Regions from separate parts of the Homo sapiens genome. Here region 1 is linked to region 2. The links come from fine-mapping of genetic effects on gene expression. A gene starts in region 2. The other region holds a variant in brackets. All regions are shown on one strand. Distances are from middle to middle. Region 1 overlaps KLHL42 (kelch like family member 42). Region 2 holds the start of KLHL42 (kelch like family member 42).

The links.
Region 1: its variant is fine-mapped to the expression of KLHL42 in fibroblasts (GTEx, PIP 0.98).

What each region holds. Positions count from the first base shown.
Region 1 is chr12:27,798,373-27,806,708 of GRCh38, reverse strand. It overlaps KLHL42 (kelch like family member 42), which reads right to left. Exons shown (of 3, transcript NM_020782.2): 3 at 3,669-8,336. It also overlaps the pseudogene RN7SKP15. Among named protein-coding and RNA genes, the nearest start is that of MANSC4, 22 kb to the right of the region's middle. RefSeq lists an enhancer at 1,625-1,794. The variant G/C (reference allele first, on the strand shown) is at 3,801.
Region 2 is chr12:27,776,600-27,784,935 of GRCh38, reverse strand. KLHL42 (kelch like family member 42) reads right to left here and starts at 4,703. Exons shown (of 3, transcript NM_020782.2): 1 at 3,734-4,703. The coding sequence starts at 4,605. MANSC4 (MANSC domain containing 4) reads left to right here and starts at 4,700. Exons shown (of 4, transcript NM_001146221.5): 1 at 4,700-4,726. RefSeq lists an enhancer at 4,187-4,686 and silencers at 4,552-4,861, 4,882-5,101, 7,534-7,734.

The sequences.
Region 1 (8,336 bases), 22 kb before region 2:
GAGGCTTCAAAACCTTTCCAATTTAACAAATACTTCCAGAATCTGCTGTGTTACATGGCTCTGGTGTATGTCCTGACATAGAGTGATAAAAAGATTAATGAAACACTCTATCATCAAGGAAACTACAGTCTAGAAGAGGAATAAGACAAGCACATAAGAACTGTTCTATGAGACAAATATGTGTGCCCTGAGAGAGAGATAGCTGAAGCTGTATCCAGGAACAAGTATTTTCAGAAGGCTTATCTTCCATAACACTGTAAACCAACCAGCTAGCTCACTTACCAAGACTAACAGCTTCCCCATCAAGGCTAGCTTAGGGGATGTGAGGGTGATCTGCCTGTGACAACTCTCACCCCACTGATCGCCAGGGTTGATTCGACTGATCTGGCTGGCTAGATGGGTGACCCCTTCCTCCCTCACTGCTCCATGTGCGTCCCTCCCGAAACTCCACGCTCAGTCGAAGAGGACAACCATCCCCAATAGAGGAGGACCAGTCTTGGGTCAAGGGTGTATGAGTAGCTGCGCTCCCCTGCTGGAACCTCCAAACAAGCTCCCAAGATTAGCTTTGGGACTCTCACTGCATTGTGCCCACAAAGTCCTATGCCCAAAGTTCTTGTATCAGAAACTCTGCCCAGTGTTGAGACCTACTTCAAAATCACCCAGCCCAGGCCCCAAAACCTGACATTCCCCTTCTGAGGCACTACTAATTCTTTTTCAAGGTGGTGTCCTCCCTGACCACAGTAAGCATAACAAACTTGGCTTTGCTTGACCAACAGGTTATCTAGCTGTTCCTTTTGCAAGTCAAGAGTCAACACCCCTTTCTTCTAGTAAGCAGACCCCTATTATCTGAGATGACTTCATTCCACGTGGTTGAACTGGAGATTCTCCTCCATGCCCCTGGCCACAGTGGTTACCTCAGAAATGGACACATTACCTGGGCTGGTTCAAACAAGTCTTAATAAAGCGTTTGGTACTTAGGATGGGATGTTGCAAATATCTAAAGCTGAAATATGGAGCCAGCTAAAGCAAGGGAAGGGATGGGGTAGATAGAATCTTCTCATCCCTGACCTTATGTGGAAAGCAAACAACTAATTATGCTGCTGTCTCTTGGGCCTCAGACCACTCAAGTTGGCTCCTTTAGGAGAAGTGAAAGACTTGTACCAGGATCTGGAATTTGTTAGCTACGTCTTAATGGCTTTGCTAAGATATTTTAGGAAAGGCATAAGCTTCCAGCCAAGCTGGCCCATTTGAAGGTATAAAGGAAACAGCTTTGGTAATAATAACAACAGCTCACATTCATTGTGTGTTATGTGCCAGATGCCATTCTGAACACATCACATGAATTTTCTCATACAATTTTTTGCAACAGTTTCACAGGGTGGATACTATTGTTATCCCTACTTTACAGATAAAGAAACTGAGGCCTGGGGAGACAAAGTAGCCTAACCAAAGCTACAGCTAGAAAGTAGCAGAATTGCCAGGCGCAGTGGCTCACGCCTGTAATCCCAGCACTTTGGGAGGCCAAGGCGGGTGGATCACGAGGTCAGGAGTTTCAGACTAGCCAGTTCGAGATCAGCCTGGCCAACATGGTGAAACCCCATCTCTACTAAAAATACAAAAATTAGATGGGCGTGGTGGCACACGCCTGTAATCCTAGCTACTTGGAAGGCTGAGGCAGGAGAATCACTTGAACCCAGGAGGCGGAGGTTGCAGTGAACTGAGATCGCACCACTGCACCCCAGCCTGGGCAACAGAGCAAGACTCCGTCTCGGGAAAAAAAAAGAAAGAAAAAAGAAAGACAGTAGCAGAATTAGGAAGCAAAGTCTTGCTCTAGAGTCCATGCCTTTCACCCTTTTGCCTACAGGCAGCAGACTGCAGAGGATCAAACATGTGCCTGGCAGAACTATAGGAGCCAGGTTCTCTGCCTTAGTTAAAGGGGCATGAACAGCCAGAAATATAGTAAGATCGGGCTCCCGGAGGAGGCAAACTAATAGAGTGGGGGCCCTGGCGCAGTGGTTCACATCTGTAAATCGCAGCACTTTGGGAGGCCGAGGTGGGAGAATCGTTTTCTGAGACCAACCTAAGCAACATAGCGGGACCGCATCTCTATAAAAATTTTTTTTAAAAAAATTTTTAATTAGCTGGGTGTGGTGGCACATGCCTGTGGTCCCAGCTACTCAGGAGGCTGAGGTGGGAAGATCACTTGAGCCCAGGTGGCCGAGGATGCAGTGAGCTGAGATCGTGCCACTGCACTCCAGCCTGGGTGACAGAGCAAGACCCTGTCTCCAAAAATAGAGAAGGAGGAGGAGGAAAAGGAGGAGAAGGAGAAAAAGAGGAAGAAGAAGAAGAGGAAATAGGGTGGGTATTTTATTCCCCAAACACCTCCTGCCACACAGAGGTAATCATTTCTACTAATGCTGCAGTCCCTGGGATGTAGTCTGGGAACGGCAGACCCCTATGGTTTCAGATTATCCCAAAGCTAAGAGAGAGATTGACGCCATCAAACTGAAGGTGGAGGCATGGGCAGGAAGCCTGTGGCTAAGAGACAGACATCATAAAGATGGGCTCTAAGTTAAAGAAACTGGGCTCCTCTAAATCTGGGCCTTTATCCTATGGAGTTGCCGGAGATCAGATTTACCAGCATCTGAGTTTTTATTTATTTATTTTTTTAATAGAGACAGGGTCTCATTGTATTGCCCAGGCTGTCCTTGAACTCCTGGGCTCAAGCAATCCTTCCACCTCAGCCTCCCAAAGTGCTGGGATTATAGGTGTGAGCCACCGTGCCCAGCCTCAAATGGGTTTTTAAAGTTTTATTGCCAAGGAAATGTTGATGGCCTACAAACAGGAGCCTAGGATCCCTGGCCTCAACAGAAGTGTTCAGGTGCCCCTCCACACACCTCCTGTAACCATGCCCACAGGAAGAGGCTGCCACTTCACCCCCAGGCAGGTCAGCCATGGAACGCGCTGCTGCAAAGCAGGACCAGAGGCTCCCAGACTGGCTCACTCGGAAACCCACTCCTCCACTAGCAAGAGAAAGGATACCCTTTAAACCAGTGACCACTGTATGTAGTTTTCCCTTCTCCTCTTTCTCAAGTGGCAATTTGTAACCTACAGTGCCTCAGTTTCCTCAACTGTAAAGCGGAGGATATTTGTATTTACCACATGGGATTCATGTGAGGATTAAATAATTTAAATAAAAAATGCTTAGAATAATTCCTGGGAAAAAAAAAAGTGCTCAGTTAGATTTGGGTGTCGCTCTGCTAGGTCAGCCATCCTCCTTCTCCTCCATCAGTGTGTCCTGAGTGTGTAGAAAATGGTTGTCCATTTATTTCATTTTTCTTGAGTTGGGGTCTTGCACTGTCTGCCCAGGCTGGAGTGCAGTGGTGCAATCAGATCTCACTGCAGCCCCAAACTCCTGGGCCCAAGCAATCCTCCTGCCTCAGCCTCCCAAGTAGCTGGGACTAGAGGCATGCACCACTGTATCGGCTAATTTCTTTTATTTCTATTTTTTGTAGAGACAGGATTTCACTGTTGCCCAGGCTGGTCTCAAATTCCTGGCCCCAAGCAATCCTCCCACCTCAGGCTCCCAAGTCACTTCACCCATTTCCTCCCAGTCCTGGCACAGCCCTGCATACGTAACTGATACATAGAACTTAGATAACAAAAAGTGACTGAAAACTACTTTATTTGAAGACATTTTCTTCTATAGTTCTAAACACAAAAGGAATGCTGTTATAGTGGGTATTTCATAGGCATTCTTGTATTCAAATGAATCACATAATGTTTACACTTTTAAGCTA[G/C]ACTTGAAATTGAAGACTTAATACAACCTTTTAACAAAGAAAGTATCAGTCATATCAAAACATAACTATTCATTCTACAGATTATCACTTTCCCTAAAATGACTACTAGATATGAAAACATTGCAGGGACAGCTCAAGTGCCCCATTCTTAAGGGTTTTTTTTAATAGGAAAAATGACAACGTAAATCACATTTTCCTTTTCTTTACTAGTAATGAACTATGGCAATCCATTTGAGAAAGCACCAGCCAACCGTACAAGTCATTTCAGCACCCTTTGCTCTTCAAAACTGACCATCTTTTATATTTAATGCTTCCTGTATGAATAAAAATGGTTATGTCAAGTACAGACGTCAGCAACGTGTCAGTTGGTGTGAATTTATGATGTGTTCCTAAGTCAACAGAGAAAATAAAAAAAATCTCTCATGTGAATAAAATCTAAGGATGAAAAACTATCCTTTGATAATTATCACAAGGCAAAATCAACCACCTTTTCATCAGTACTAGTGTGGAATGGAAATTTCTTTATTAATACTTTTTATGGGAATGTTTTAAAGGCATAGGTATAAATGCACATGCAATCAGCTTGCCCCTCTTAGATACTAACTTCCCCAGCTTCACTCCTCCTTTTCACTGGAACAAGCTGCTGAATCCCTAACTCCAAAGTCTGCAGTGCTTGGTGAGCATTTTTAAATAAAGATTATATGTGATTTTCACTTTTTCACAAAAATGAAGTACAGAGAAGACTGAAAAGCAGTGAGAAAAAAATCATAGAGCAAAAAACTAAAACACAAGATGTGATGTTCAAATTTAAAAGAAAAACAAAACTGGTTCGTGATGATTGTTAGTAAATCACAAAAACAAAGGACGGACAGGGCCAAGACCGAAGGGACCACCAGACCACCGAGCCCCAATGTGCCAGACAAAAGTGGGCATCTTTGAGAAGGACGCCCTGGTGAAGACAATTACAGTGAACCTCTTTATAAGGCCGTAAGCTCTTCAAGGTCATGGGCCGTGACTTATTTATGTCTGTATTCTGTTCTTAGCATTGTCTTGCACATGACAGACACTCAGTATTTCTGGTAACCACAGAACTGGAGCTCAATCAGCTCACTGCTTTCAAAGTCATTTTGGTTGGTGTCTACCCACTTAATTCTTTCACTCCTCTGTCTAAGGCAGGGATGGCAAATAGCCTTCATTTCACTCTGATGGACTGGGAATAGATGTCTGGAAGCACCAATCTGACATGGATTCTAAGACCAAATCCTGGCACAGAGGACAGGAATGCTGCACTCATTCATAATGCCTCCTTAAAAGAGCGGTGGCACAGGTGTTATATATTCCCCATTCCTGGTCTAGGAAAAAGGCATCCAACACCTACTTATATTCCTTTTACATTGCTATGCTGCCTCTTGAGTGATCTGCATTAAGCCACTGTTCGTTAAATGCTGGTTGATCAGGAAGACCAAGGCCTTTCCTCTCAATTTACGTCTTTGGCCAAACAGGTAGGGTCAGAACTTCACCTGGAAATCTGAAAACACATCATCCACAATGCTCAATAGGCAACAGTCCATTGAAAGAGAACAGGTATTTACTTGATTACTCCCTTTGTAGAGAAAGAATTTTGCCCATCTCAATGGTGTGTAGCTTTCATTGATATCTAAGGCATTTGGAATTACTTAGGATCTTGGTGTTAAAAAAAAAAAAATGGCAGGGTTAAATTCTCTTTGGTTCTCATTCTAATCTTAAGACTTCTGTTTGTTTCTTCCTGGTACCCATAACCTTCTCAGCACTTCGTCGTTGTGACTTAACCAATACTGTTGAAATAATCAACTCTTTCACACATTCATCAGAAAACCTTTTAAAGGATGCTAAGGGGAGAGGCCTCTGAAAATAAGTGGGTTGAAAGGAAAGCCAGAGAGAATAACAGGAAGAACCAACCTTCTAACAACCCACACACAGGACTCTCTACCATTCAGACTGCTATCTATAAAATAGGGTGCTTCTGGTCGGGGGGCTGCCACCCCAGGTCCTCCAAGCAACCCTTTTCCCCATAGTGGGAGGTCAGCATCCCTCAGAAGCATCTCAGGAAAAAATGATAAAGCATTTAGAGAATTGGGAAGAAAATAGAGGGATACTATCAAAGAGTAAAGGACAGTCCTGGGGGATGAAGGGGGATTTTCTTTTTTCTTTTTTTTTTTTTGGAGACAGAGTCTTGCACTGTCGCCCAGGCTGGAGTGCAATGGCACAATCTCGGCTCACTGCAACCTCCGCCTGAAGGGAGATTTTCAAAGCAACATTGCCTCTATCATAGGTAGTCTTCAATGTAATACTGGCACCAACAAGAGAACCGAGCTAAATTAAAACTACCCTCAAAATGTCATCACAGCTGATGTGCACAGCAGGAAGGACGATGTCACAAAATGCACAGATCTGTTCCTATTGCACATTCCACCTTTCCCACGTACTGCTGGCAGCCCAGAATAACCAAAATCTTTTTAGATGTCTGTCTTAAAGAGAGCTATAATATGCAAACATACACACACACACACACACACACCCCCACACACACACACAACCTCAAACCTGGTTTATAAAAGAGCTTTGTGGATCAGAGTACACCCTCACTTGGTCCAAGAATCTAATTGTCAACATTAGGCAAATAGACCCAATGAATGTAACCAGGAAGAGAATTAACTGGTTGGCTGGAATATTGTATTTGATATGATATGCTTATTTGCAAACTAATCTCCAACTGTTTGTCCAGTACTAATTCAACTGACTCATCTTCTAAATGTATAGGACAAAGCCTTTAAAAAGTTAAGCTCTTCAGCAACGAAAAGTTAACACCATCTAAAATAAATAGATTTTAAAATATATGTAATGAAATTACAGGTCACTGGAAATTCAATTCTACAATGAATATAAATTAACATTAAAATCTATTAAGTACTATTCCTGGGAAGATTTTGGTTCAGAGGTTTTATTTTTTTAAGGGCTTAATATTTGGGAATAAATGGGCATAGCTTAGAAACCCTTACAAAGTTGTAAGTAGACTAGAGGTAAGATTATTTGGTGACAAGATACAAAGATCTGTTTCTATGTCCAAAATAATGGCTTACCTCATTTTAGTTAATAGAAGTATTCCCAAAAAGTTGTGCAAATAGGCTTTTTATAACTGGACGCTTATTTTAAGTATACTAGAGGCCATGGTTGTAAAGAAAACCTGTAGTCACTCCTCTAATAAACTGAAGAACTCTAAGTGATTAGCCCCTGTCCTACATCTGCACAGTGGACGGCATACTCCAGGCACTCATAAGTGTTTGTTGAATGCATGAATTCGCTCTGACAGTTTTTTTTTTCCCCTACAGGACTTTCTTAAAGTGAGGCACATGCTAACTGAAATGGTTCTGCCCGCTGTTACTGCAGAAAGATGGAATCCAGCTCACAGTTTAACTGATGCCATTACAAAATATCAGATAATTTCAGAGTGTTTTCAATCAAAATAAAATTTCCATAAGTATGAGTGTATGTATTTTTGAGGAATGTTGATCTATGATTGGCAGAAGCTTTTATTGTTAACTCACTCACTGAAAACAACTGCTTGAGCTGAATTCTATTTCAATTAACAACCAAGGCAAGTAAAGCACTTTACCTAACTTCAGAAATACCACCAGAAACCATTCCACTTCTGTAACAGCTTCTTCCCCTCACTCCAGCACAAATATTTAAATGCTGTCCTTACCTTAGTCCACAAAAGCAAAACATGAATTACAAAGCTAAGATTAAATTAGAAAGCTGCCGACTTAAATATGACAAAGTTTTTTTAGCCTTAAAATAAGAACTAAGTCAAATACATTCAACAAAAGTAACTCTTAAAGGCAAATTTTTTTCTTATTTGGTGTTTTCTTCCCTTCCCATTTAAATTTAAGACTCAATTTTTAATAATATTCATATGTCCATTTTTCTAAATAATATATCCTCTTTAAAACAATACAGAATGCCTAGCAGTGCAACCTATGTGTCCACATAAATATGCAACCTGCCACATAAATAAAATAAGAGGTTTTATCAGTCTATTTATCCAGCATTTGTAACTGCAAAAAAGGCTGGAAAAATAGCTAAGAATATTTTTATGCAAGTTTTGGGGAGGACTGAACACTGGTAAGGATTCACTGTAGGGCTCCATCATTATAAGTTTCCTAAAAAGTAGTGTGCAAACAAAATATCTGAACACAGAACCCTAAACATACTAGATGTATGTGTGGGTATGGGTGATGGAGAAGAGAGAATGAATATGTTAATATGAATGCTTGTCAAGGACACTGATAAGAAAAAGAAAACCTCTCACTTAAGGTGCTAATGATATGTCAAGGGACCTAAATACAACAGATTTTAAAATCATCTTTACCATTTGTCCCAATTATTGACTTTGGCCCTTTACCACACAGACACAATGAATCTACATTTTGATGATCCGTCATTGGCCCAAGAGTATCATGTTTGGAGATGGATTTGCTCCCATAATTTAAAAATCAA
Region 2 (8,336 bases):
TTCTCAAATGAATGTGAAGAAAATAAGCCAATTTTTAGGAAACTGGCAAAGACCATTTACAAAAGAAATACAAATGGCCAACCAACATATAAAAAGAATAATCTCTCTTCTAATTGGGAAAAATCACACTAGTGTTTTTGCCCATTAGGTTTGGGGAAAAAAAGATGATAATATTCTATCTTGGCAAGAGTATAGGGAACTGGCAAGCACAAACACTTTTGATGGAAGAGGAAATCAGAACAATTTTTTTGATGGGCAATTTGGCGGGAGCAACCAAAATCTATTTATTTATTTATTTTTAACTGTTTATAGAGATGAGGTCTCACTATGTTGCTCAGGCTGGAGTGCAATGGCTATTCACGGGCCCGATGAGAGTGCACTGCAGCCTTCAGTTCCTGGGCTCAAGTGATCCTCCTGCCTAAGCCTCCCAAGTAGCTGGGACTACAAGCGTGAACCATTGCACCCAGCTTCAACAAAATTTAAAACATGCATACACAGCTGGGCGCGGTGGCTCACAACTTAATCCCAGCACTTTGGGAAGCCTAGGTGGGCGGATCACGAGGTCAGGAGATCGAGACCATGCTGGCTAACAAGGTGAAACCCCTTCTCTACTAAAAATACAAAAAAAAAAAAAATTAGCCAGGCGTGGTGGCGGGCACCTGTAGTCCCAGCTACTCGGGAAACTGAGGCAGGAGAATGGCGTAACCTGGGAGGCGGAGCTTGCAGTGAGCCGAGATCGCGTCACTGTACTCCAGCCTGGGCAACAGAACGAGACTCCGTCCCCAAAAAAAAAAAACAAAAACAAAAAAAAAAAACACATACACTTTGCCCTACCTATCCAGGGATTCCACGAATTTGACATATGAAACTAACTCACATATGGCTACTAAGATACATGCACGCATCTACCAGGATGTTCAATGGCAGTGCTTATTGAAACATCCAATGCAAATGGAAGTGACCTAAATGTCCATAAATAAGGGAAGGGCTAATTACATTATGGTACATCCATAGGCTGGAATGCCACGCAGCCATTAAAAAGCGTGAGGTAAGGCCGGGCGCGGTGGCTCACGCCTGTAATCCCAGCACTTTGGGAGGCTGAGGCGGGCGGATCACGAGGTCAGGAGATCGAGACCATCCTGTCTAACACAGTGAAACCCCGTCTCTACTAAAAATACAAAAAAAAATTAGCCGGGTGTGGTAGCGGGCGCCTGTAGTCCCAGCTCCTCGGGAGGCTGAGGCAGGAGAATGGCGTGAACCCGGGAGGCGGAGCTTGCAGTGAGCCGAGATCCCGCCACTGCACTCCAGCCTGGGCGACAGAGCGAGACTCCGTCTCAAAAAAAATAAAAAAATAAAAAAGCATAAGGTAGATCTACATTTGTTGACACAGAAAAAAAACTCTCAGATATGGTTAAATGGAAATATCAAGTGCCATAATAATTAGTACAACCTAGACAATTTCAGAATTTTTAAAATGTGTAAGGTGATACACCCCCGTGCACATTAATATACATAAACACTTTTCCCCTATTGTTAACCACTATCAATATACTTATACAGCTGATCCTTTAATAACACGGGTTTGAACTGTGAGGGTCCACTTACATTCAGATTTTCTTCTGCCTCTGCCACCCCGAGACTGCAAAACCAACCCTTCCTCTACCTCCTTTTCCTCCTCAGCCTACTCAGCGTCAAGATGATAAGGATGATCCACTTCCGCTTAATTTTCTCTTCCTTAGTTTATTAATAACATTTTCTTTTCTATAGCATACTTTATTGTTAGAATAAAGTATATACTACATATACAAAATGTATTAATTGATTATGTTATTGGTAAGGCATCTGGTAAACAGTAGGCTATTCAGTAGTTAAGTTTTTGGGAGAGTCAAAAGTTATATGGGGATTTTTGACTGTGCAGGGTTTGGTGTCCCTGGCCCCCACATTGTTTAAGGGTTAACTGTATTTATACAAGTATACATATAATTTACAGTATAAATGTTTATACATTTATAATATCTAAAGGTAACAAAAGTCTGTTGATACACTGACACTTTTTTTCTGTACCCTGAGGGCAGACATTTACTCTTTTTACTCCACAGTTTTGTGTGTAATTTGCAGTTTTTCTAAGAATCATGCATTCATGCATTACTTGAATGCTTTTTTTTTTTTTAAGGGGATGAAAAGGGCCTTCCTAGAAAAAAAGACAAAGACTACCAAGGATGTATGAAGGGAAGAAAGAAGTGTGAGGAACTGTGGCACTAAGGATGGCCTGGTGAGCACCAAATGATGTGTAGCTAGAGGAATGCAAGAGGAGTGAGAGAACTCAGGGCCGCCCACCCCTAATCAGACCACCACCCATGGCCACACAATGTTCCTTTGTTGTTTCAATTACAGTGCATAGAATTTGTTTTAAAATAACACTTCTGATACCAAATTTTAAATATGGTATCATCTCAATGGTGTAAATAATGCATTAAAAATGGGCTGGCAGGAAATATGCCAACCTGGTTACTGCCTCTAGGAAGAGCGGGTAGGAATAATCATCTTTTTGCTTCTTCATTCTTTTCCATTTTCCAGTTTTCTGTAACTATGTATTATCAGGGGAAAAAGCATACTTTTCAAAATGAATTTCATATTATAGGAGAAATAAAGCCAGTTATTTCCCCCAAATAATCCCTGGCCGAGGAGGACCCTCGAGTCAAATAAACAGATATATAAAGGATTCTCTGTTACTGTTAAGACTTTCTTTGCCCAGCTGTGAGCTCCCCAACTCCTTGCTCCACACTTCAGGACCAGGACCCTGTGAGGATTGAGATGGAAACACGTGGATGGGAAGAAAGGGTATTTTCATCCTTTCTTGAGTTACATTGATTCTTTTCCCTGCTTCTGAATGACGCTGAGGCCTCCTAGGCGCTACCATCTTTATTTCCTACCATCTCTTCCTGTATATGCTCTTTGCTCTTGTTTTGATATTCCTTCCCTGGTTCCTTTCCCTTCTCCCCTCTCATCCCACTCCTCAAGCTCCTCCTCTTCCTTTCTTCAAGTCACCCTTGTTGGAGGCAGGAGAGATTTGCAGGATGGGAGGGGGAGAAGGTTGCGTAAATGAAAATATTCCAATTCTGTAGTTGAACACTTCCAGGCTCAAGCTGTGGGTCATGACGATGGCTGTCCAGGGAAGGAAGCAAAAGAGAGGATAAAAAATAAGAAAAGCAACCCCTATTGCAAACGTTAATACATTTCCAGTGATTATCTCTTGATCATGATGGGTATCACAGTGTGGAAGACTCTGTTGTCACAGTCACTGACATCAGAAAAAAATCCCCCAAAGTCAGTGTTACAGGTTACTGTCCAGTGTATCATTATCATCAGGATCAAATCCTAAAAACTAAGACAAATTTTTTAAAAATTAAGGGGCAATTTTCTTTTAAAGTATTCTTGTAGGAAACCACAACATCTTTTTTCACAAGAACAGAGGCAAAGAAAGCAGTTTCACCTAAAGGCACAATACCTGCCAAAAAACCACTCCACTTCTTGACCTCACTGGGGACGTCCTCTTCGCAATTTCTTAGTTCATTGGGAATTTTGCCAGCGCCAAGGCCAACAACATTCCTGAAGATGTCATTTCCACCACAGCACACCCTCCCCTATTTACTGGCTCAGTAAACACTGGGGTAATGAACTAATGAACAAGTGAATGAATGAGAAGGCAGCAGCACTCTGCCGGGGTGCTTACCTCTTCTGGTTCATGGAGGCCACCTGGAGCCACTCGTTGGTGCTGGGGTTGTAGGAATGCGCAGCGGAGATCTCCTGGCTAGTGATCCTGTACCCGCCCACTATGAAGAGGTAGTTGTCCAGGATGGCAGACCCATAGCCCCTGACATTGACCAGGTCGGGAGGAAGGTTGTTGGCCAGCGGGAACCAACGCTCAGTCATCTCCTCGTACCTGAGCATGGACGGGGGCTCCCCCTGGTAGGGGTGAGGGGCCAGGGGTCCCCCCAGGAAGTCCCCGAGGGCCACGAGGACAGGAGTCCCAGTCATCCGGGCCTCCCTCAGCCTCTGCTTCAGGCTGACATCCCCTGGAGCTTGGGGAGGAGACCCCAGGAGGTGGAACTGGGGCTTGCACAGCACCTCGTGGAAGTGGACGACCATGAAGCGCAGGCAGGCCTCCTGCAGGTCGGGCAGCCCGTACACCTGCGCCAGGCGGTACATCTCCAGGCAGTTATTGAGCCGCACCTGGGACAGCAGCAGCTGCAGCAGGGACGTGACCTGCAGGAAGGAGGCCGCCTCCACCAGCTCGGACAGCAGGCTCACCTCATCCATCTCCTCGTCCTCGTCCACCCCGCCGCCCTTTTCCCCGCGCGGGCCCAGGAGCCAGCCTTCGCGGGCCCCGCCGGCGTTGATGAAGTCCAGCACCAGCCGCAGGCCCGGCGCGCTGAGGCCGCGCAGCTGCTGCACCTCCGGGCCGCCGGCCTCCTGGCTCAGGGCCTCGCGCATGCCGGAGCGGTAGAGGGCGCGGAAGTAGTCGCTCTGCTCGATGAGCTTCCTCTTGCTCACCGGGTAGCAGCGGTCCTCCAGGCGGATCTGCACCATCTCCTCGGCCGACATGGCTGGGGGCCCCGGGGCGGCAGCGCTCACCGCCAGATCTGCGCGCCGGCCTCCCAGCCCCTACGCGCGCGCCGGTTCCGGGCGGGGCGCCGAGGGATGGCGGCCCGGGAGGAGCGGCGAGGTGAGGGCCGCCCGCGCTCGCCCGGCCTCTCCGGCGGCCCCTCCTCCCGGGGCCCGCTCCCGCGAGGCGGCGGCCCTGCCCTTCTCCTTTCCCTCAGCGCCAAAAAAGGGCCGGCGGAGCGCGGCGGGCGTCCTCGCGCGGGCTCTCCCGGGCGGCGCCAGGCGGGAAGGGAATTCCAGCTCCCAGCCAGCAGCCTCCTCCCCCGCCGCCCTTCTCACTTCCGCCCGCGGGACCCCAGCCGCCGGCCTGACCTGCCGGCTGGATCCGGCTCTCGGGGAGGCCCGGGAAGCTGCGGGCCCGGGCGCCTCGGCTGCGGACGCGCAGCTGCGGGAGGCGGAGGGCGCGCGTCCCCGCAGCCTCTCCGCCCGCCCGGGGCGCGCCGGCTCCGCCGCTTGTTGGGGGCTGCAGTGATGCTCCGGGGTACCCCAGGGAGAAGAAATTCGTTTTCTCTCCCACGCTGCTTTACACGGGCTAAAGAAAAAGAAATGAGCGTGGGAGGAAAGGGAAGGATGGAGTCTCTGGTCCAGGGAGACAAAAAGGCATCAAATATGGGGTCGTCCTTCTGGCCCAGTCCGGCATCGAGTGTCAGTGGGCTGAGGCACGCAGGCGATCTATGGACAGTTGGTGGCAATGTTGGTGGCACGTAGAGCTGATTCTCTGGTAGCGTGGTCGCGTAGGAGCCATCTTACAGGAGGTCCAGGCAGATGGCAGCAGGTTCTCAGAGGAATCGGGTTGGGAGGCAGGGGAGCTTGCATTTGCCACTGGGGCCCCTTATTCTCCCTAAGTTATTAAAAGAAAGATGAAAGCGCAGCCCGACTAAATAAAGTTACATCACGTGGCTTCTGGTTTTAAACCATGTTTTCTATGAGCCATTGCTTTTCTACTTCAGTCCAGTCCATTACGGAATGTTATCCTGGCGCAAAAGATCTGACAAAATTGGCTCATAAATGTCTGCAAGAAGTAGCTTTTCTTGTCACCCCCTTTCTCCACCTACCCTGCCCCCATCATCTGAGGACTATTAAGAGAGACCACACGTGCGGTTTGGCTGAGCGCGGTGGCTCACGCCTGTAATCCCATGACTTTGGGAAGCCCAGGTGGGCAGATCACGAGGTCAGGAGTTCGAGAGCACCATGGCCAACATGGTGAAACCCCGTCTCTACTAAAAATACAAAAATTAGCCGGGCGTGGTGGCACGCGCCTGTGATCCCAGCTACTCGGGAGGCTGAGGCAGGAGAATTGCTGGAACCCGGGAGGCGGAGGTTGCAGTGAGCCGAGATCGCGCCACTGCACTCCAGCCTGGGCGACAGAGCGAGACGCCGTCTCGGAAAAGAGAGACCACTTGTTTCCTATGTTCTCTCACTGAACATTGCAATTAGAAGGCCCACCCCAAATAATAATAGGAAGGACTTTTTGTCTTGCTAATGAATTCATCCCAGGAAGGGGGTGGGGGGAGAAATATATTGTTTGGATTATCTTTGGGTAGGAGAAGGGAGAAGGATTGGGAGGAAGCAGAGGGTGTGTTCACTCTTATCTTACAAAACAAAAACAGAAAACCTTGAAAACTTACCCCAAACCAAGATTTGAGAACCACCTATGATAAACAGTCCTTAACTTGGAGAGAATATGTGTTTGGTTTTTTTTTTTATTATTACAAGCTTCAGCTTTCTTCTTGAATGACAGATTGTTAAATAATATCTTCTTCATAAGTACATTTCCCCTATTTAAAGAAGATACATCCTACCATGCTAACATTTTACCTTAGGAAGGAGAAAGGGTTAAAAACCAGAGAACTAAAAGAAAGTCAAAGGTGAAACATGAGATCCTTTCAACATAGTTTGGTTACATTTGTGGTTCTTACTACGAAATTTATCTGCTTCACAGAGAGGTGTTGTTGTCATCTTTTACTTTGTTTATTATTATTACTTGGGAAAGGAGGTTTATCTTTTTATTTTTTAGAAAAAAAAATGCATTTTTTTTTTTTTTTGAGACAGAGTTTCCCTCTTGTTGCCCAGGCTGGAGTGCAATGCTGCGATCTCAGCTTTCTGCAACCTCCACCTCCCGGGTTCAAGTGATTCTCCTGCCTCAGCCTCCGGAGTAGCTGGGATTCCAGGCATGAGCCACCACACCCGGCTAATTTTGTATTTTTAGTAGAGACGGGGTTTCACCATGTTGGTCAGGCTGGTCTGGAACTCCCGACCTCACGTGATCCACCCACCTCGGCCTCCCAAAGTGCTGGGATTACAGGCATGAGCCTCCATGCCCAGCAAAAAAAAATGCATTTTTTTTTTCCATAGAGATAGGGTCTTGCTACCTTGCCCAAGACAGACCTCAAACTCCTGGCCCCAAGGGATCCTGCCACCCCAAGTGATCCTGCTGCCTTGGTCTCTCAAAGCACTACTGTGCCTGGCCTATTTTCTTTATAATAATGCTAGGAATAAGGAACTAAAAAATAAAAGACATAGAAAATGTTCTAGTAGATTCTGGCCTCCCTGGAAAAAAATGAAGGAAATAAAAATGGATCTATGACTTACTCAGTTGTTTTCTTGGATTCTATAAAAAACATTCATCTCTTCACCTTGTTTCACCTGGCCTTTAAATCGTTACTGATAAAACTCCATTTTCACATCAACCCTTCACACTTCCATTCTCTATGAGGGTGCAGTGAGACACGATAAGCTTTGGAGCAGGAGGTGGAGTGAGTGATCAAGCATTTAGCAGCTTCTTTGGGATGGTAGAGTGTAACATCCAGTATTAAGCATCAGGCTGGGGAATTTTGCTGGGATGCGTCCCCTGTATCAAAGAGACTTGGACCTACGATTTTTCTATGCCTCAACCGGCAACAATGCCAGATTCAGTGGGTCAGCCACAAAGAACAGGCTCTCAGTCTCTCCTCTGTCTCTTGAATCTTTCACCAATGGATGCTTTTGTTTCCCAGCCGTCATAGATATGCCTCAGACTGGTATTTTCTTGCCTTTTTAAAACAGACCAAAAAAATCATGCTCAAAGAATGATGTGCATTAGAAAGGCAATTCAAGCACAGTAACATTATCAGGGTAAGATGAGGTTGGACAGGGAGTCTGGGGTATTAGTCTCACAATACTGGGCATTGATCTTGTGAGTTTTTTTGGCTCCCAATATGATAATAACATTATTTAGGATTGGGAGCATCTTAAATGATCAAATCATTTTAATAAATTATGCAGTAAGTTTTCTGTTAAGCTAGAAATGCAAAGTCAGAGCAATATAAACTCCTTTATTTTAAAAAGACCTAAAATTATTCCTAGTCTTCCTGAAAATATTGCTTTATATAACTGGAGGTATAATTTTATAGATCTGTTATTGACTGATCATTGAATAATAAAAACCAGTTTTGTGGTACTATCTGTAAAACAGTTTTACAGAAGCGTAATGGTCAAATAGAGTTAGGTAATTTTTATTTTTTATTTTTTATTTTTTTAGACAGGGTCTCACTCTGCCATTCAGGCTGGAGTGTGGTGGCACTATTATGGCTCAATGAAGCCTCCCAGGTTCAAGTGCTCCTCCCAGAGGCCTCCCAGGTTCAAGTGCTCCTCCCACCTCAGCCTCCCAAGTAGCTGAGAATACAGGCCTG